Homo sapiens: one gene and its partners. The protein of the gene in region 1 interacts with the protein of each later gene in a pairwise test. Each region holds a gene or a part of one and is shown on either strand. Other genes may lie near its edges.

Region 1 (3,500 bases):
ATTGAGTCATGAGGGCGTTATTACATGAGGGAAGCCTGGTCCGTAGCTTTGGGCTCGGGCATCTTCCTCAGGATGTCAGTGGGTTTGTGTAGAGGATTCTCTGGGTCACCCAAACTTGCACACTTTGGGAACCCAGCAAACTTTCTTTCTTTTTTTAAAAAATCTATTCTTTTTTTCAAAGTTCAGTAACTTGCCCATCTTTTGTGGTTTGATTTGTTTTGTTTTGTTTTTGTTTTTAAGAGATGGGGTCTTGCTCTGTCACCCAGGCTGGAATGCAGTGGTGCCATCACAGCTCACTGCAGCCTTGAACTCCTGGGTTCAAGAGATCCTCCCACCTCAGCTTCCTGAGTAGCTAGGATCACAGGCGCATGCCACCATGGCCAGCTAATTTTAAATATTTTTTTTTGTAGAGACAGGGTCCCACTATGTTGCCCAGGCTGGTCTCAAACCCTTGGCCTCAAGTGATTCTCCTGCCTTGGCCTCCCAACGCGCTGGGATTACAGGCATGAGCCACCGAGCCCAGTCTAGAGAAATTTCTTAAATTGGGTCTCTTGGGTCCTGGCTTTTTGTCAACCTGAAGCACGTTCTAAGTCGATGGTAGAAAGTGGACACCCCCAGAAGACACTTTTGCCCAGAAATCTCTTTCTTCCTGACCCCTCTTCCCCAGAGTGCCCGGAATTCCACTGTCAGAAATGCATTGTCTGGGTTAAAAAACTTAACACCTGCTATGATTTCAACAGTGTCAAAACAGGATACGTCAAAACTGGGCGAGGAGGAAATGTATTTGGGTTCTAGGATAGTGAAAGCTCTATTTTTTCTACTTTTCTGTATTTTCCATATTTGGTACAATGAGCACGTACTTAGAACGGTTTTAGATTTACGAAAATATTGCAAACACAGTACAGATAGTTCTTGCGTCCCCCATGCCTAGTTCCTCTATTGCTAACGTCTCAACGTTAGTGTGGTGCGTTTGTTGCAATGGGTGAATGAATATTCGTGGGCTGTTATTAAAGTCAGTGCTTCACCCCTATTTCCCCAGCTTTCCTCTTACATCCTTTTTCTGTTCCAAGATTGCATCCAGGATGCCGCGTTACATTTAGTCTTCACACTTCCTTAGGTTCCTCTTGGTATGATGGTTTCTCAGATTTTTCTTGTTTTTGATAATCTTGACAGTTCGAGGAGTATTTGTCAGGCATTTTGTCAAATGTTCTTCAACTGGGGTCTCTGGTGGTTTTCTCATGATTAGTCTGGGAATGTGCTTTTGGGAGGAAGACCACAGAGATGATGTGCCAGTCTCAGAACATCGTACTAAGAAAAGGTTCTGCCAACTTGACTTACCACTGTTGCTGGTGACTTTGAGCCCCCGGCTGAGGTTACTCCTTTGTAAAGTTACTCTTTTTTTCTCCTTTCCATGCTGTATGTTTTAGAAGGAAGTCACTATGCTGCTCCAAGCAACTCAAGTTTGATGAATGGGGAGTTCCGCCCCACCTCCTTGAGGGCAGAGTAGCTACATAAATTACTTGGAATTTCTCAAGGAGATTTGTCTGTACTCCCAGTTTATTATATAAATAAATGATTTATTTATATTACAGGGACCCAGGGATCTTTACTGTATGCTTTGGGTTATAATCCAATGGTACTTTACTTTGTGGCTCAAGTATACTACTTTTAAATTGGAAAAAAAAAAAAGTACGGCCAGGTGCGGTGGCTCATGCCTGTAATCCCAGCATTTTGGGAGGTTGAGGCGGGTGGATCACTTGAGGTCAGGACAAAACCCTGTCTTTACTAAAAATACAAAAAATTAGCTGGGCATGATGGCGGGAGCCTGTAGTCCAAGCTACGCGGGAGGCTGAGGCAGGAGAATTGCTTGAACCTGGGAGGTGGAGGTTGCAGTGAGCCGAGATCGCGCCACTGCGCTCTAGCCTGACAGAGTGAGACTCTTTAAAAAAAAAAAAGGTAAAGCATTCAAATCATAGTATTTGAAGAAGGAGTCTCTATTGCCCTGACCTCGTGCAGGTAAGTTCACCCATGTGCCCAGCCCCAGGCCGGGATACAGCCCTGACTCATTCACGGCCTCTGCCCTTGAGGGGCCAGTCTGCCAAGGAAAAACCGACGAGGACAATGGATGACATTGCTGGCTATGATGGGGGCACAGATGTAGGGCTGGAGGTTGGGATTCTGGAATAGCTTCTTGGAGGAGGTCTGAGTCTTAAGGATGAGTAGGGCTTTGCTTGGGCACCTTGGAAAAGAGGTCACGCTGGGCGGGGGGAGTAGCATGACACAGGCTTGGAGGGGAAGGACCCTGCAGTGCTTCAGAGACCTAGCAGGTTTGTCAAGCTGGGTTAGGAGGGGTGGCCACGAGGTGTGTCGGGGAGGAGGGTGGAGAGGTCCCCAGGGGTGGGACCTGCCCGAGTCCTTTGCTTTTACAAGCTTCAGAGCTAAGAAGATGGATCTCTCTTCGGCCTATCAGCTCATTTTGCAGATGGGAAAACAGGTCCAGCAGGGCCCCTTACTTGCTCCAGGACACATGGAGAGATGGGGCAGGAGCTTGCTTCAGGTCCCCCTGCTGGCACACAGGTGTGTGGAATGATCCAGAAAGTGGGCAAATGAGTTCCTTCCCTGCCCCATGGCTGGGGTGGTGTGTCTGTCTGGGAGGCCCTGCCCTCATCCAGCCTCCCACCATTCATTTCTTCTTTATGGTCCAGTTTACGGGAAGCTTCCTCCTCCAGGAAGCTCTCCTGATTTGTCCTCCTTAGAACTCCTGGGGCTCTTTTCTCTGCTCCACTTTGGGGGCAGTGATTTGTGATTGAAAGGAACACAGGCCCATCTCCATTACTTACCAGCAGTGTGACTTGAGCAGGCGGGCACCTTTGTTATCTGAGCCTTGCCTTCCTCATCTGTAAATGGGGCCAGTGGTCCCTGCCTCAAAAGTGATCATTTGGAGGAGACCCTAGCGAAGCCGGGTGGAGGGCTAGCAGGTGAGTGCCTGAAGTGGGCTGTGGAAGAAGAACACAAGGCCCCCCGCCCCTTTTTTTTGAGACTGAGTCTTGCTCTATCACCCAGGCTGGAGTGCAGTGGCGTGATCCTGGCTCACTGCAACCTCTGCCTCCCGGGTTCAAGTGATTCTTGTGCCTCAGCCTCCCAAGTAGCTGGAATCACAGGTGTGTGCCATCATGCCCGGCTAAGTTTTGTATCGTTAGGAGAGATGGGGTTTCACCATGTTGGCCAGGCTGGTCTTGAACTCCTGACCTCAAGTGATCCACCAGCCTCAGCCTCCCAAAGTGCTGGGATTATAGGCGTGGGCCATAGTGCCTGGCCCCACTCCTCTGTTGAAAGTTCATCTGTTTGGGGTTGAAAAATGGGTCCAAACTGCCAGGTGGGGAAAACCCTGGGTGAGAATCTGTTAGAACTTGCCACCTTTATGTCCAGTGCCCCTGGGCTGGACAGAGAGGCCACGTTCTCTGCCACTGCAGCTCTGTGCGCTTCACGGAGGGGTGAGG
Region 2 (3,500 bases), on another chromosome or scaffold:
CTACAGGCGCTTGCCACCACACCCGGCTAATTTTTGTATTTTTTTTTTAGAGATGGGGTCTCACTATTTTGCCCAGGCTCGTGTTGAACTCCTGAGCTCAAGTGATCAGCTTGCCTTGGCCTTCCTAAGTGCTGGGATTACAGCGTAAGCCACCCTGCCGGGCCTACTGGGAGCTTTTTAAAACAGTAGAACCTTCAGGTTCTTCTGTGTACTGATAAGAACTCTTACTGTAGAGATATGCTGTATATATACAGAAACACAATATTACATTTGTGTTGTGGTTTACAGTTTACAGAGAATTTTGACTAATGTTATTTGCTATTATATTACACAATAAACTATTCCTGGAGTTTAAATGATTTGCCTGAAGCATCATTCAGCTGGTGGGTAAAGTGGAATCAGGAGATTGTTGACAATGATGGTGTTCTTTCATGTATGAAGATAATGCAGTGGCTTTACCATCAATTAAATATAGTTACTGCCTTTAAATGACCTTGTCAGTAAGACTAGATGATCCCACAAGATTCCTTCTAGTTTTTAACATTTTGTGATTCTCGAGTCCTAGACTTTCATCAGAGTATCTACTCTCCTTGTTTAATATGTGCATGAGAGCTGGTGAGTCTGAGGGATGAATTGGGTAGAGAAGAGCAGTTAGCAATATCAGATCATTCATTTGGATTGTTACTTTCTTTGTATGTCTCACTTTGGGCTGGGGAGTAGGGAGGAGAGAGGTGATGTAAGTGAAATAAGAAACTTTAAGAACTTTATTGGGAGGCTGAGGCAGGAGGATGGTGTGAACCCGGGAGGCGGAGCTTGTAGTGAGCCGAGATTGCGCCACTACACTCCAGCCTGGGCAACAGAGCGAGACTCTGTCTCAAAAAAAAAGAACTTTATCTTCTCTGTTCATTTATACCTTCAGAATATTCTTTTCTTTCAGGAAGCCTTTATCAAATAAAAATGGAGACTTCACAATGTAAATGAAGATTCCTACTCAATTTTTTTTGGGTGGATTAAGTAGCTAGCTAGTACGGTTAAAGTGTAGTGCGATTGGTAAACAGTTGACTTTTCTGCACCTGTAAGATTATCTCCCTGGTAATAGGTAATCATAGCATGTTATTACATGTTAATAAACTTTGATTTCATAATTATTAGAAAGACTGTTGTTTTTTACTCTTTGTATAAAAATATGATACAATTATAATGAGCATTGGAAAATCCAATAAATTGCCCTTTATAGTGGTATCCAAGGAACTAGTTACTAATACTTAATGGAGGAAAAATGATAAAAACATACACAGATGAATTTTATTGTTTTTGCTGGCATTAAGAATTGTACTATACCTTATGTTAGTATAGCATTTCACATTTGTAAATAATAACTATATTTATCATTTGGTTCTCATGACAACTGATAAGTTGGTGTGTTAGGAAGTAATAACTGCTTTATATTTTATTTTATTTTATTTTATTTATTTATTTTTGAGACAGGGTCTTGCTCTGTTGCCCAGGCTGGAGTTCAGTGGCACAGTCATGGCTAAACTGAAGCCTAGACCTCAGCCTCCCAAGTACTTGGGACTACAGGTGTATGTCATGACACCCAGCTAAATTTTTAAAATTTTTTATAGAGATGGGGTCTTGCTGTGTTTCCTCAGGCTGGCCTCGAACTCCTGGACTCGTGGCCCTCCCACCATGGCCTTCCAAAGTGCTGGAATTACAGGCGTGAGCCATCGCTTCCAGCCAATCATTGCTTTTTGGATGAATATGCTGAGGCTAAAAAAAAAGTTTAAAAAGTTAAATTTCCAAAGTATGTGGCTAGTTAGTGGCCACAATTAGAACTACAACTAAAACCCTTATTTTTGTTCCTATGTCAGTATTCTTTTCCCACCAGACTTCTTACTCTTCATGTACAATGGAACATCATTAGTTAAGAGCTGTATGTGAAGGATTTGAATTTACCTGTTTGGAATGTGTTAAACTTTTGTACCGTGTAGAGGTAAACTTGTCAGTTTTTTCCTTTGTGTTAAAATGGTAATCTCACTGCAGTGGCTATTGGTAGGTGATATTTAAATTTGTAAGCATTGTACCACAGAATAGTTATTCTCCTGTCAAGGATAAAGCAAAAGTTGATTTCTTATCTGGAAAAGTACATTGGTGAAATGTAGATATTTATTTTTTTGAAAATTTTGAATTTAATTCTGTTGCTTTTACAGATGAAGTTTGTGTTTCCCTTTTATAAAAGCTTAGTCTTCAAAAATTTACATTTTTTGAGGATATAAATGAGGATCTAATTTCCAAAATATATATAGATTGGGTATCCCTAATTCAAAGTTTGAAATGCTCCAAAATGGGAAACTTTGAGCCACCTACATTACTCAACAGAAACATTCACTGGAGTATTTCAGATTTTGGATATTTGGATTAGGGATACTCAACCTGTATCATGATATTTTATTATTTTTGTATTAGATCATAAGCTCTACCATTGAAAAAAACCCAAAGATATTAAAAAGCCCTCCTTAGTGGATGCTTCAATTCATACATTTAAACAACTTTTTTAGGGAATGTATAATGTAAAACCATACGTCAGATGGTTTTTAAGTTATAAGGAAGACTAGCATGGTTTTTAAGTTATAAGGAAGAGTAGCATTTGTTGATTTAGTCTTGACATTTCTTTTTTCTTTTTTTTTTTGAGACGGAGTTTCCCTCTTGCTGCCCAGGCTGGAGTGCAATGGCGCAATCTTGGCTCACTGCAGCTTCCGCCTCCTGGGTTCAAGAGATTCTCCTGCCTCAGCCTCCCAAGTAGTTGGGATTGCAGGCATGCACCACCACACCTGGCTAATTTTGTATTTTTAGTAGAGACGGGGTTTCTCCATGTTGGTCAGGCTGGTCTTGAACTCCAGACCACAGGTGATCTGCCCGCCTCAGCCTCCCAAAGTATTGGGATTACAGGCATGAGCCACCACGCCTGGCCGTCTTGACATTTCTTAAATCTACAGTTCACTCACAGCACATACTGGCGTACCTACTATGTGCCAGACATATTTCTAGGTGCTGGGAGTACAGTGTTGAGATGACAGATATGAAGCCTTTCCTCTTGGAACCTGGAGTTTAGTGGAATCACTAACATTAACAAGGGCATAGAACTTTATCTTCTCAGGTTGTAATTTTGCGGAGTGTAATTAATTATACCTCTCCTTTTTCTGGGGTTTGAACAAATTATGCAGAACACACAAGGAACCAGGTGAGTGTTGTTTCAGTTATGTACTGCTGTGTAGCAAACAGCCCTAAACCAAGTGACTTAAAACAACCATTTTCTTTGTTACAGTTTTGCTTTCCTGGGTTGGGCTCAGTTGGGCAGGTTTTGCTGGTGATCACTCTAATGGCTGCTTTTCTCTCCAAGTAGCCTTTCCAGCAGAGTTGCTGGCCTTACCTGGTAGCTGATGGCTTAGGGCTCACAAGAGTACAAAACAGAAGCAACCAGATCTTTTTTTTTGAGAGGG
Region 3 (2,243 bases), on another chromosome or scaffold:
TTGACAGTAGTGATAGGAAAAGCCCAACAGGGCAAGACACAGAAATAGAAGATATGCCGACACTTTCTCCACAGATATCCCTTGGAGTTGGAGAACAAGGTGCAGATTCTTCAATAGAGTCCCCTATGCCATGGTTATGTGCCTGTGGTGCCGAATGGTACCATGAAGGAAACGTCAAAACAAGACCAAGCAATCATGGGAAAGAGTTATGTGTCTTAAGTCACGAGCGACCTAAAACCAGAGTTCCCTACTCGAAAGAAACTGCAGTTATGCCTTGTGGCAGAACAGAAAGTGGGTGCGCCCCCACATCAGGGGTGACACAGACAAATGGAAACAACACAGGTGAGACAGAAAATGAAGAGTCGTGCCTACTGATCAGTAAGGAGATTTCCAAAAGAAAAAACCAAGAATCTTCCTTTGAAGCAGTCAAGGATCCATGCTTTTCTGCAAAAAGAAGAAAAGTGTCCCCCGAATCTTCCCCAGATCAAGAGGAAACAGAAATAAACTTTACCCAAAAACTGATAGATTTGGAGCATCTACTGTTTGAGAGACATAAACAAGAAGAACAGGACAGGTTATTGGCATTACAACTTCAGAAGGAGGTGGATAAAGAGCAAATGGTGCCAAACCGGCAAAAAGGATCCCCAGATGAGTATCACTTACGCGCTACATCCTCCCCTCCAGACAAAGTGCTAAATGGACAGAGGAAGAATCCCAAAGATGGGAACTTCAAAAGGCAAACTCACACAAAGCATCCAACACCAGAGAGAGGCTCAAGGGACAAAAATAGGCAAGTGTCTTTAAAGATGCAGTTGAAGCAGTCAGTTAATAGAAGAAAGATGCCAAATTCTACTAGAGATCACTGTAAGGTATCCAAAAGTGCTCACTCCCTACAGCCTAGCATTTCACAGAAAAGTGTTTTTCAGATGTTTCAGAGATGCACAAAGTAAGGCCTGGTAAAGGGAGTGCTTTGTGATCTAGTAAAGCTGGAATGTGAAGCTCTTTCCTATCATGGAATCTTCATCCATGTGTCATTCATGCTGCTCTCTAGGCACACTCATTGTCCTTAATGAAGGTCTGTGTGATTGTAAGGACTGCATAGACACATGAGCTTCTGCACAGCTCAGCGGTAAGCAGGGGTCCCCTGTCGTTTCCCTTCTTAATAACAGATGTGTATTAAGCTTTACAATTCTTAGAGATATCTTAAGCTTTGGCCAACTCCAGGAAATCTTCAAGTGCCATTGTCTTTCCAAAAACTGCATGTTTTATGGCCTTTGCTCACCTTTTTGTCGTGACTGGTAATCAAAGCAAGATTATACTATTCTGAGTGATTAAGGAACCCATGCAGGGTTTAAAATCCATTTTCTTGCTATTGTCCAATGTTTACAGAGTACTCAAAAGGTTTTCCTAAAGTAATCTAATTTCCATCTCCAATTTAATTCAATTTTCAGCATTGTAGCATTTCCTTTGGTGTTTGTTTTTTTTTTTTAGACGGAGTTTCAAAATTTGGATTCATATTCATATGTGGGAAATCCCAGATTTTTTTTTTTTTTTTTTTTTTTTTTTTTTTTTGGAGACAGAGTCTTGCTCTGTCACGCAGGCTGGTGTGCAATGGCGCGATCTCAGCTCACTGCAACCTCCGCCTCCCGAGTTCAAGCGATTCTTCTGCCTCAGCCTCCCGAGTAGCTGGGATCATAGGCATGTGCCACTACACCCAGCTACCCAGCTAATTTTTTTTTTTTTTTGTACTTTTAGTAGAGATGGGATTTCACCATGTTGGCCAGGCTGGTCTTGAACTCCTGTCCTCAGGTGATCCACCTGCTTCGGCCTCCCAGAGTGCTGGGATTATAGGCGTGAGCCACCACGCCCGGCCTGTTTCCTTTGGTTTAAAGTGGATTCGAATCAGTGTTAAATCAGAAAATCAGGGTTTTCTAGGAAATTGGGAATTAGTTGCCAGAAAGGAAACTGAACTATGCAGAAGGAGTTAAGAGCTGGGATGAGGCTGGATGGGGTGACTGACAGTCCAGATCATTGAAACAGATTGGGTCGTCGGAAACTGGTCCAGATGAGGCTGGATGGGGTGACTGACAGTCTGGATCATTGAAACTGATTAGGTCGTCAGAAACGGGTCCAGACGAGGATGAGGCTGAGGCTGGATGGGGTGACTGACAGTCTGGATCATTGAAACTGATTGGGTGGTTGGTCAGAAACGGGTCCAGATGAGGATGAGGCTGAGGCTGGAT
Region 4 (3,500 bases), on another chromosome or scaffold:
TTCTCCTGCCTCAACCTCCCTAGTAGCTGGGATTACAGGTGCATGCCACCACTCCCAGCTAATTTTTTTTTGTATTTTTTTTGGGTGGAGATGGGTTTACACCATGTTGGTCAGATTGGTCTCGAACTCCTGACCTCAAGTGATCTGCCCACCTTGGCCTCCCAATTTCTTTTCATTTGTTTTGGTAGTCTTATTTTTTTCTTCCACATAAATATTAAACTTGTTAAGTTTAATAAGAAGTTTCATTGGGGCCGGGCATGGTGGCTCACGGTTGTAATCCTTGGACTTTGGGGAGGCTGAGGATGGTGGATCATCTAAGGTCAGGAGTTTGAGACCAGCCTGGCCAACATGGTGAAACCCTGTCTCTACTAATAATACAAAAATTAGTTGAGTGTGGTGGCACATACTTGTAATCCTAGCTACTGGGGAGGCTGAGTCACAAGAATCGCTTGAACCTGGGAGGTGGAGGTTGCAGGCGAGATCATGCCACTGCACTCCAGCCTGGGCGACAGAGTGAAACTGTGTCTCCAAAAAAAAAAAAAAAAAAAAAAAAAAGACATTTCATTGGGATTGTCATTAGAATTGCTTTACTTTGGGAAAAAGAAGTATCTAAGTTTATTTAGTTTTCTCACCCAGGAACATGATATGTTTTTTACATTTATTTAAGCTTTGGCCCATATTGTTCAGGATAGCTTTATAATTTTCTTCCTGTGTTTGAATTTAATTTCAGATAATTTATATTTGTGTGATTTACGTTGTGTTTTCTAATCCTAGTTATTGCTTGTATTTAGGAATGCAGTTATATGTATTTTGCTTGATTAGAAGAATTTTGGCTGGGTGTGGTGACTCACGCCTGTTATCCCAGCACTTTGGGAGGCCAAGATGGGAGGATCACTTGAGCCCAGGAGTTCGAGACCAGCCTGGGCAACATAGTGAGACCTCATCTCTATATTTATTTATTTATTATTATTATTTTTTGATACTGAGTTTTGCTCTTGTTGCCCAGGCTGGAGTGCGATGGCGCCATCTCGGCTCACTGCAACCTCTGCCTCCTGGGTTCAAGCGATTCTCCTGCCTCAGCCTCCTGAATAGCTGGGATTATAGGCATGTGCCACCGCGCCCGGCTAATTCTGTATTTTTAGTAGAGATGGGGTTTCTCCATGTTGGTCAGGCTGGTCTCAAACTCCTGACCTCAGGTGATCCGCTTGCCTCGGCCTCCCAAAGTGCTGGGATTACAGGCATGAGCCACCGCACCCAGCTGATGGCTGGTTTTCTAGGTGTCAGTGTTTGGTACTTGTTACAGTTGAATGTTAACACTTAAAATTTTTCTTTTCTCTCGGATTTCTCTCCAACATATAAGTAGTTGAACAAAGTGAGAAATTTTATTTCATTAAAAATTTTTTAAATACGAGCAGTCTTCTGAACAAGAATAGTTTCAGACCAACTCTGTTTTAGAATAGCTTCTGATGGCATTGGCTACCTTTTTTAAAACCACATTTGATATTATATTAAAAAGTGTCAACAGATAATCTGAAGTTTGGCAGTTTGGTTTGGTTTTGTACAAAAATTGGTAGCAGACATAAAGTTTAAATTTTTAAATAAACCTCGATGATTCATTTTTAGGGAGGAATTACCACGTGGATGATTGCAATCATGCAATGTTCTTCCCATTTCTTCCCAAAAAGTTTCTTCCCAAAACATTTTCTCTTACCTCTTTGTAGCCAGTTGTCTTCTTCAATACCGAGAACTTGTCAACCACTGATCTGTTTTCGGTCACTATAATTTTGCCTTTTCTAGGATTTTGAGTAAATGGAATCATACTGTCTGCAGTCTTTTGGGTGAGGCTTCTTTTAGCGTAATGCTTTTGAGATCCATTCATGCTGGGTATCAGTACTTTGTTCCTTTTCATTCCTGAGGAATACTGCATTGTACACCAATTTGTTTATCCATTTATAAATATCTGCAGACATTTGTTGTTTCCAGTTTTTGGCCATTACGAATAAACATTTGAGTACATGGCTCTTTGTGAACATGTTTTTCTTGCCCTTGGGTAAATGAGTGGGATTGTTGCATCATACAGAAAGTATGCATTTTAACTTTTTAAAAATCTGCTGGGCGGATTGCTTGAGCCCAGGAGTTTGAGACCAGCCTGGGCAACATGGCAAAACTCCGTCTCTACAAAAAATACAGAAATTGGTCGGGTGTGGCCTGTGCCTGTAGTATCAGCTACCTGAGAAGCTGATGGAGGATTGATTGGGCCTGGGAAGTTAAGGCTGCGGTGCTGTGCTCACACCACTGCATTCTAGTGTGGGTGACTCTGTCTCAAAAAAAAAAATTTTTTTTTTTTCAAAGTTGTACCATTTTGCATTTCTACCAGCATTGTATGAGTTTCAGTAGTTCCTCATCCTAGTCAGCACTTGATACTGTCTTTGATTTTAGCCATTCTAATTGGTAGGTACAGATATTTCATGGTACTTTAATTTTTACTTCCTTAATAACCTACAGTTTTAAGCACATTTTAATGGACTTATTTATTGTCCATATAATCTTTGGTGAATATCCAAATCTTTTGTTCATGTTTTAAAATTGGATTGTTTTCTTATTGAGTTTTGAGAATTCTTTATGTATTCTGGATATAAGCCTTTTATGAGATATATACTTTGCAAATATTTTCTCCCGGACTGTAGCTCCCCCACCGCCCCCCAAAAGATGTCCCAAAGAGAAGAAGTTTTGAATGCTGATGAAACCTGTTTATCAGTGTTTTTCTTTTGTGGTTCATGTTTTTTGAGTCCTAAGTCTTTTTCTAACCCAGAGTTCTAAAGATTTTCTCTGTGTTTTCTTCTGCATTATTTATAATTTTAACTCATACATTTAAACTTATTTTCAAGTTAATTTTTTAATATGCTGTGAGAAGTAAGTGTCATGATTTTTTTTTCATATGGATATTCTATTTTTGTAGCCCTATTTGTTGAAAATACTTTTGTTTCCTCCATTGAATTGTCTTGGCACCTTGGTAGAAAATCAGTTGACAGGCCAGGTGCGGTTGCTCATGCCTATTCTTTGGGAGGCCGAGGCAGGAGGCTCACATGAGGTCAGGAGTTCTAGACCAGCCTGGCCAACATGGCAAAACCCCGTCTCTACTAAAAATAAAAAATTAGCCAGGTGTGTGGCAGGTGCCTGTCATCCCAGCTACTCGGGAGGCTGAGGCAAGAGAATCACTTGAACCCAGGAGGTGGAGGTTGCAGTGAGCTGAGATTGTGCCACTGCACTCCAGCCTGGGCGACAGAGCGAGATTCTGTCTCAAAACAAACAAACAAACAAATCAGTTGACAGTATACATAGAATTCTATTTCTGGACTCTCCTGTGTTTTCTTTATGATTCTACCCTTTAAGTTTATTTGTTTTAACACTATGCTGTCTTGATTACTATAGCTTTAAAATAAAGCAGCTTTCAAACAAATTGAGTCTTTGATTTAGGATCTTGTAGTGCTTTGGAGCGG
Region 5 (3,500 bases), on another chromosome or scaffold:
CAATTAAAATGTCAATTAAATATAAAAGGGTCACTGCCGTTGAATGTTTTTGTCTCTAAAATTCATGTGGAAGCTTAATCCCCAATCTAACAGTATTAAGAAGTAAGGCCTTTTAAGAGGTGATTGAGTCATGAGGATTCTGCCATTAATGGATTAATGTGTTAACAGATTATCACAGGAGAGTTAGTTATCACAAGAGTGGGTCTGTCATAAAAGCTAGTTTGGCTCTTTCTCTTATGCCTCTCTTGTCCTGTGATGCCTTCCACCATGCTATGGTGCATCAAGAAGGCTCTCACCAGATGCCAGCACCATGCTTTTGTACTTTTGAGCCTCCAGAACTGTAAGACATAAGTTTCTTTTCTTTATAAATTACCCAGTCTGTGGTATTCTGTGATAGCAACACAAAATGGACTAAGAAAATAAAAATTTCTAAAAAAAAATTAAAAATACCATTCACAATAGCACTAATCAAAAATAAAATAGGTATAAACCTAACAAAATACACGCACAAACTATATGCTGAAAACTACAAAACATCAATGAAAGAAATTTAAAAATCTAAATAAATGAAGAGATATGTCATGTTCATGGGTTGGAAAAGTAAATATTGTTAAGATGTCCAACTTTCCCCAAATCGTTTTATAGATTCAATTAAATTCTACTAAAAAATCCAAGTACAATTATCTGTAGATATTAACAAGATTATTCTAAATTTAAACAAAAAGGAAAAGTAATTAGAATAGCATAAACAAATTTTGAAAAAGAACAAAGTTAGATGATTCTCACTACCTGCTTCGAAGATTTACTATAAAGCTGCAATCAACAATGTGTGGTACCTGTGAAGGGACACACACATCAGTGGAGCAGAACAGAATCCAGAAACAGACACACAAATGTAGTCAATTGATTTTTGACAAAGGTGCAAACGTAATTCAATGGCAAAATGACAATCTTTTCAAGACACGGTGCAGGGAAAATTGCACAACATATACCAGAAAAAAAGGATTATAGATAAAAATGTAAAACCTAAAACTTTAAAACTTCTAGGAGGTTCCATAAAAAGAAGAAAAATGGTAAATTTTGTATCATCAAAATGAACTTTTGCTCTGTTTAAGACACTATTGATAAAATAAACTACAGACAGGAAGAAAACATTTGCAAATCACATATTTGCCAAAGAGCTTTCATTTGGCAAACATAAAACCTCTCAAAGCTTAATAATAATAAAACAACCCAGTATTTTTTAAATGGGCAAACTTCACAAAGAACATGAATATATTATTAAAAGGCACAGGAAAAGATAATTAACAACTTCAGTCATGAGGGGAACTCAAAACCACAATGAGATAGTGCTACACACCTATTAGAATGGCTGAAATAAAAGAAAAATTGACAACGCCACACTCTGAAGATACAATATGAGTTCCCATCTGTGGAGCTCTCACACATTGCTGGTGGTAATGCAACATGGCACATCCACTCTGGAAAATTGTGCATCTATCAAAACTGTGCATCTATCAAAACTATGCATCTGTCAAAACTTACAGTATTGTATACTAAAAAGAATAAATTGGCCGCGCGCGGTGGCTCATGCCTGTAATCCCAATACTTCGGGAGGCCAAGGCAGGTGGATCGCTTGAGCCCAGGAGTTCGAGCCCAACCTGGGCAACATGGCGAAACCCCGTCTCTACTAAAAATACAAAAAAATTAGCCAGGAGTGGCGGCATGCACCTGTAATCCCAGCTACTCGGGAGGCTGAGGCGGGAGAGTCACTTGAACCTAGGAGATGGAGGTTGCAGTGAGCCGAGATCACGCCAGTGCACTCTAACCTGGGCGACAGAGTGAGACTCCATTTCAAGAGAAAAAAAAAAAAAGGAATAAATTTTAGTGTATGTGGATGAAGAATTTATAAAAACCATATGTTCATATTGAATTTTTTGTTTTTTTAACAGAAGTATATATATGACTGAAAAGTCAAATATCAAAATACTAACATCAGTATCTCTAAGTGATATCCGTAATTTTAAAATAAGTTTTAAAGAATATGATTTTTTCTGATATCTGACTACATACGTATGAACACACATATACATATATACTGTAGTCTCTCTATGTTCCTGTATGTACTAAAGTTCCAAAATAAATACCATCCTGAAGCACTAAAATGCTAAGATGCAAGGAAAATTAGGGAGAATTAAGATGGACTATATTTTCTTCCCTGTATTTCTATTGTTTCCTGTATTTGCACAAATTTTCTATAATAAGTATGTATCGCTTTTGAAATTAATTTTTAAAATTATAACACAACCTGACAGACCTAAATATAAGACAATGTGAGTGCACTAATGCATTGTCTGACTTTTCAGAATTCCATGCTTCTGTCTTACATCTTGTTCAATTCCACAATGGATCTGATCAAGTGGTGTCTCACTTTCCAAGAAAGCTCTGCTTCCACCGCACTCAGAAGGGCTACCCTGCAGGTGAGGCATGGGCCCTTTAACTGTCTAACTACAGACTGCACAAGAGAGCTATGTTGTATAGAATCCTAAGCAGTAAGATTTTTCCAAGCACGCTTGGATCACATGAACATCTGATTCAATGTGGAAAATTGTACTGTTGTTCTTGCTTCCCCCAGAAACATGACATTTCAGAGGAACACACAGAAACAAATGAAAACCCTCAAGAGCAGTTACCAATTTTGCCAAATGTTATACCAGACATGGGGGAATGGCAGGAATGGGAAAAGAAGTGACCTCAACTAGTGGTCAGATGACTTTCTGTAATTTCAATACCATTTGCAACTAAGAGGGAATGGGTGATTATATCATCAACTATTTCCCCCACTCTAACAAAACCAGGCCCCTATTTTATGCCTGATCCAAAAGAAACATGCAAAGAAGGTGAAGAGGATTCTATGCAAAGCATTATTCTCACAATTCTTCCTCCAGGTTAGGAAAAAACATTATTTGAGCCTTCAAGTTTATATGCATATTTTAGGGTCAAGTCTGAGTCTCCTGAAGAAAAAAATTGCAATTTTACACTCTCTGTATAATATCCAAAACCCCAAAAAACAAAAAACAGAAAAAAATCCACCTAATTTTGTTCCCTGAGTACTCAATAAACTACTGGCCTTCACGTGGCAATGTGTGGTTTTGACTGGCAAAACTAAGTACCATAGTTACATAATGACATGCAGAATCTCTTCTCAAGGTATTTTATTTCCTATTTAAAATTAAGTCATGAACTAGAGACAAGAATATGTTTTATGATAAGTATGTAAATAAATATAAGACTAACTCAAATGCAAAATGTAGTATACTTAAGCAGCTTATTTTCCCTCTTTAACATTTTTTAAATGTCAAAAATTCTCAGCATGTCTAAAAGCAAAAATGGTATCGTCCAGGTACACTTGACTATTTCCTATTCTTTGAGCACCCCAAGCTTTTCCACATCTGAGACTTTATTTATCCTCATCTCTCTCTGGTTTTCTGAAATTCCTT
Region 6 (3,500 bases), on another chromosome or scaffold:
AAATCTGTTTTTCACATCCTTTGCCCTGCTGCACCAAACCTGCCCAAACATGTGACTCAGCTATTTTGCAGACCTAATGGCATCTCCAAGCAGCTCACCACAGTGATGAGTTCCTGGCCCACCTGCTCTTTTGTAAGGAGCAGGATGGTCTGTGCCTCATTGTTCTAAGAATTCCTCGAGTGAGATGTGGCTACTTGTGGAGATCCCACCATTGACATGCATGTCCCCAGTTAAGATGACCCAGATAAATGCTCTGACCTGGTTACCACCTTGTGGCAAGCCCTTGGATGCTGGTCATCTTCAGTCACTTCTTTGGGACTGCTGTCCAATAAATGTCACCACCTTTGTCCTCAATGCTGGCAGTTTTGTAAAGAAGCCAAGATTGGAGGCTTTCTATGCCTGGGGTGAGGCAAATTGATTAATAACTGTGGGAGGAGGGTGGAGGGTGCATAAGCCATCTGTCATTGCTAACCGCCTCCTGTGGACAATAGGACCATGATTTCCAAGTGTCCTTCACTAACTTAAGCTGGGGGGGAAAAAAACTATAAAGGCTACAGATATAAATCTGAATGGCATATTGTACATGTAGAAATTTGTGGTGTTCACTTTTTATCAGAACTAAATCCGGATTCTGGGGCTGGAGGACAGATAAAGCAGAAGTTGTTAATGGTTACGAAGCAAAGGTAAAAGGAAACTCTTAAAATAAGATTTAATATAGCTATTTAGCTTCTATGCAAATGAGGAATCTGTTCCCATTTTTTTCATGCATCTGTGCCATGGAGATGCTCTGGGGAATGAGAACTGTCTAATGTGTCTCTCACTTGGATGTTTGATTTTGTCTTATTTGACTTTCAGAAAATGGGATAGCATGCCCTGAGGAGGTCTGTAGCTATGCTAAAGAGAAACAATATGGTAGAGAAATGAGTACAGGTACCAGTTGTTCTGGTAGGAATGACAAGCTAGTCATTCCCTTAATTATTTAAAAAAAAAAAAGGAAGAGGAAGGATTAGACTTCACATGTGTTCAAATGTTGTGTAGTAGCTTTTGAGTCTCTTTTTTGTTAAATCAGCTTAATTGTAATCAGCAGGCGCACAGCCCATTTGCATGACATCAGTGCATTTAAAACATAGTTGTAATAGTGGAGACGATTGTTGATCCAGTCATCTGGCATTTTGTCAGCTGGAAAGCTGTTTCCTGGCCTTTCAGTCCCTCAGTACAACAGGGATTGATGGCTTTTGGTGTTGGAGCCCAGTGCTGCAGGGTCCTCTGGTGGCCTCTGAGTGAGCAAAGAAAGGCTTACGTCATGCTCAGCAAGATACATTTAGAAGCACTTGTCATAGTGCTGAGTGTGTTTTCTGCAGCTTTGAATGTTGGGGCTCCTCACGTGGCATATAGAGAGAATTCTTTGTTAACTGTTATGTTTGATTTTCTAGACCACCATATTCCCCAGTTATCCTTGATAACAGAGCATTTGCTCTGGCAGTTACAATAATTTTTGTCAGTGCACAGAATGCCTTTTAAATAGTGACTTGCTGGTTTTCTCTACAGCTCATAAGTCTATAGAGAACCTTGTGTTCATACCTTTCTCTTCTGCCCAGCAGATGGCTGTCTGAGTCATACTAGTATTACAAGACTACCAGCGGAGGCTGGGTGCAGTGGCTCACGCCTGTAATCCCAGCACTTTGGGAGGCCCAAGTAGGCAGATCACTTGAGGCCAGGATTTTGAGACCAGCCTGGCCAACATGGTGAAACCCCGTCTCTACTAAAAATACGAAAATTAACCAGTCATAGTAGCACATGCCTGTAATCCCAGCTACTCTGGAGGCTGAGGCACGAGAATCGCTTGAACCCAGGAGGCGGAGGCTGCAGTGAGCAGAGATCACGCCACTGCACTCCAGCCTGGGCAACAGAGGGAGACTCTGTCTCAAAAAAAAAAAAAAAAAAAATTACCAACAGAAGTACAGGATCCTGGTTTGGGTACCTTAGTTTAATAGAAACCCAGGTGGAAACCTAGATTGCAGGGCATTTGTTTGAGACTATTTAGCCACAGCAGGGCAAGCAGGAAGATGCAGCCTGTCACTGCTAACTCCTTAGTATTAAAACTGTCAAACATGGGAGGTAACTGCTGATGCATTTTTCAGTTGATAGTTTATATACTTTCTCTGAAGGATCCTAATGATAGTTAACCATTTCTCATTTTTATTTTGCTGGATTGTTTTCTGTTTTTTGCTTCAGCATTCTTGCTTTTGCTGTGCTTACTTTTGGAGTTTTGATTCCCTGTGTCACTGTTTTCTTTCGCATACACCTCTCAGGTTTACACAGTAAACAATGTGAATGTGATCACCAAAATACGCACAGAACATCTGACCGAGGAGGAAAAAAAGAGATATAAAGGTAATCACCACCACCCTCCCACCTCCTGTTTTGTTGTTATTTTTTAAGCCTAGAGGGAACTCTTTGTTGGCTCTGTTAAGTTTAGGGTTAATGTGATTGGGTTGTGTTAAGCCTAACCCTAACTTCTTCTCTCTCTCTCTCTTTTTTTTTTTTTTTGAGGCAAAGTCTCGCCCTGTCACCCAGGCTGGAGTGCAGTGGCACGACCTTGGCTCACTGCAACCTCTGCCTCCTGGGTTCAAGTGATTCTCCTGCCTCAGCCTCCTGAGTAGCTGGGATTACAAGCACCCACCACCACGCCCGGCTAATTTTTTGTATTTTCAGTAGAGACGGGGTTTCACCATGTTGGCCAGGCTGGTCTCGAACTCCTGACATCAGGTGATCCTCACCCACCTCGGCCTCCGAAAGTGCTGAGATTACAGGCGTGAGCCACCGTGCCTGGCCCCTAACTTCTTTTTTATAAAAATTTCTGGCCAGGCACGGTGGCTCATGCTTGTAATCCCAACACTTTGGGAGGCCAATGTGGGCGAGTCACCTGAGGTCGGGAATTCAAGACCAGCCTGACCAACATGGAGAAACCCCATCTGTGCTAAAAAAAAATACAAAATTAGCTGGGTGTGGTGGCCCATGGCTGTAATCCCAGCTACTCAGGAGGCTGAGGCAGGAGAATCACTTGAACCTGGCAGGCGGAGGTTTTGGTGAGCTGAGATCGTGCCATTGCACTCCAGCCTGGACAACAAGAGTGAAACTCCATCTCAAAAAAAAAAAAAAAATTTCCTGGCTGAGCACGGTGGCTCACACCTGTAATCCCAACACTTTGGGAGGCCAAGGTGGGCAGATCACTTGAGGCCAGGAGTTTGAGACCAGCCTGGCCAATATGGTGAAACCCTATCTTTACTAAAAATACAAAAATTAACCAGGCGTGGTGGCGCACTCCTGTAGTCTCAGCTACTGGGGAGGCTGAGGCAGGAGAATCGCTTGAACCCCAGAGGTGGAGGTTGCTGTGAGCCAAGATTGTCCCACTGCACTCCAGCCTGGGTGACAGAGCTAGACTCTGTCTCAAAAAAAAGAAAAAGGAAAGAAAATTTCCTTAGTCTGACTCATTCTTG

Evidence for each region.
Region 2: the proteins of LAPTM5 (region 1) and WWP1 interact in a two-hybrid assay, tested with the Homo sapiens proteins (one large-scale study listed by BioGRID and IntAct).
Region 3: the proteins of LAPTM5 (region 1) and RNF168 interact in a two-hybrid assay, tested with the Homo sapiens proteins (one large-scale study listed by BioGRID and IntAct).
Region 4: the proteins of LAPTM5 (region 1) and SMURF2 interact in a two-hybrid assay, tested with the Homo sapiens proteins (one large-scale study listed by BioGRID and IntAct).
Region 5: the proteins of LAPTM5 (region 1) and AIG1 interact in binary tests that used the Homo sapiens proteins (3 or more experiments, as listed by UniProt).
Region 6: the proteins of LAPTM5 (region 1) and ANKRD13A interact in a two-hybrid assay, tested with the Homo sapiens proteins (one large-scale study listed by BioGRID and IntAct).

What each region holds. Positions count from the first base shown.
Region 1 is NC_000001.11:30,751,275-30,754,774, reverse strand, and holds part of LAPTM5 (lysosomal-associated transmembrane protein 5), read left to right. Parts: intron 1-2,414; exon of another isoform or gene 2,415-3,500. UniProt on the Homo sapiens protein: May have a special functional role during embryogenesis and in adult hematopoietic cells.
Region 2 is NC_000008.11:86,345,547-86,349,046, forward strand, and holds part of WWP1 (NEDD4-like E3 ubiquitin-protein ligase WWP1), read left to right. Parts: intron 1-3,500. UniProt on the Homo sapiens protein: E3 ubiquitin-protein ligase which accepts ubiquitin from an E2 ubiquitin-conjugating enzyme in the form of a thioester and then directly transfers the ubiquitin to targeted substrates.
Region 3 is NC_000003.12:196,470,526-196,472,768, reverse strand, and holds part of RNF168 (E3 ubiquitin-protein ligase RNF168), read left to right. Parts: coding exon 1-950; 3' UTR 951-2,243. UniProt on the Homo sapiens protein: E3 ubiquitin-protein ligase required for accumulation of repair proteins to sites of DNA damage. Acts with UBE2N/UBC13 to amplify the RNF8-dependent histone ubiquitination.
Region 4 is NC_000017.11:64,652,308-64,655,807, reverse strand, and holds part of SMURF2 (E3 ubiquitin-protein ligase SMURF2), read left to right. Parts: intron 1-3,500. UniProt on the Homo sapiens protein: E3 ubiquitin-protein ligase which accepts ubiquitin from an E2 ubiquitin-conjugating enzyme in the form of a thioester and then directly transfers the ubiquitin to targeted substrates.
Region 5 is NC_000006.12:143,067,389-143,070,888, reverse strand, and holds part of AIG1 (androgen-induced gene 1 protein), read right to left. Parts: intron 1-3,500. UniProt on the Homo sapiens protein: Hydrolyzes bioactive fatty-acid esters of hydroxy-fatty acids (FAHFAs), but not other major classes of lipids. Show a preference for FAHFAs with branching distal from the carboxylate head group of the lipids.
Region 6 is NC_000012.12:110,023,430-110,026,929, forward strand, and holds part of ANKRD13A (ankyrin repeat domain-containing protein 13A), read left to right. Parts: intron 1-616; coding exon 617-683; intron 684-2,312; coding exon 2,313-2,394; intron 2,395-3,500. UniProt on the Homo sapiens protein: Ubiquitin-binding protein that specifically recognizes and binds 'Lys-63'-linked ubiquitin. Does not bind 'Lys-48'-linked ubiquitin.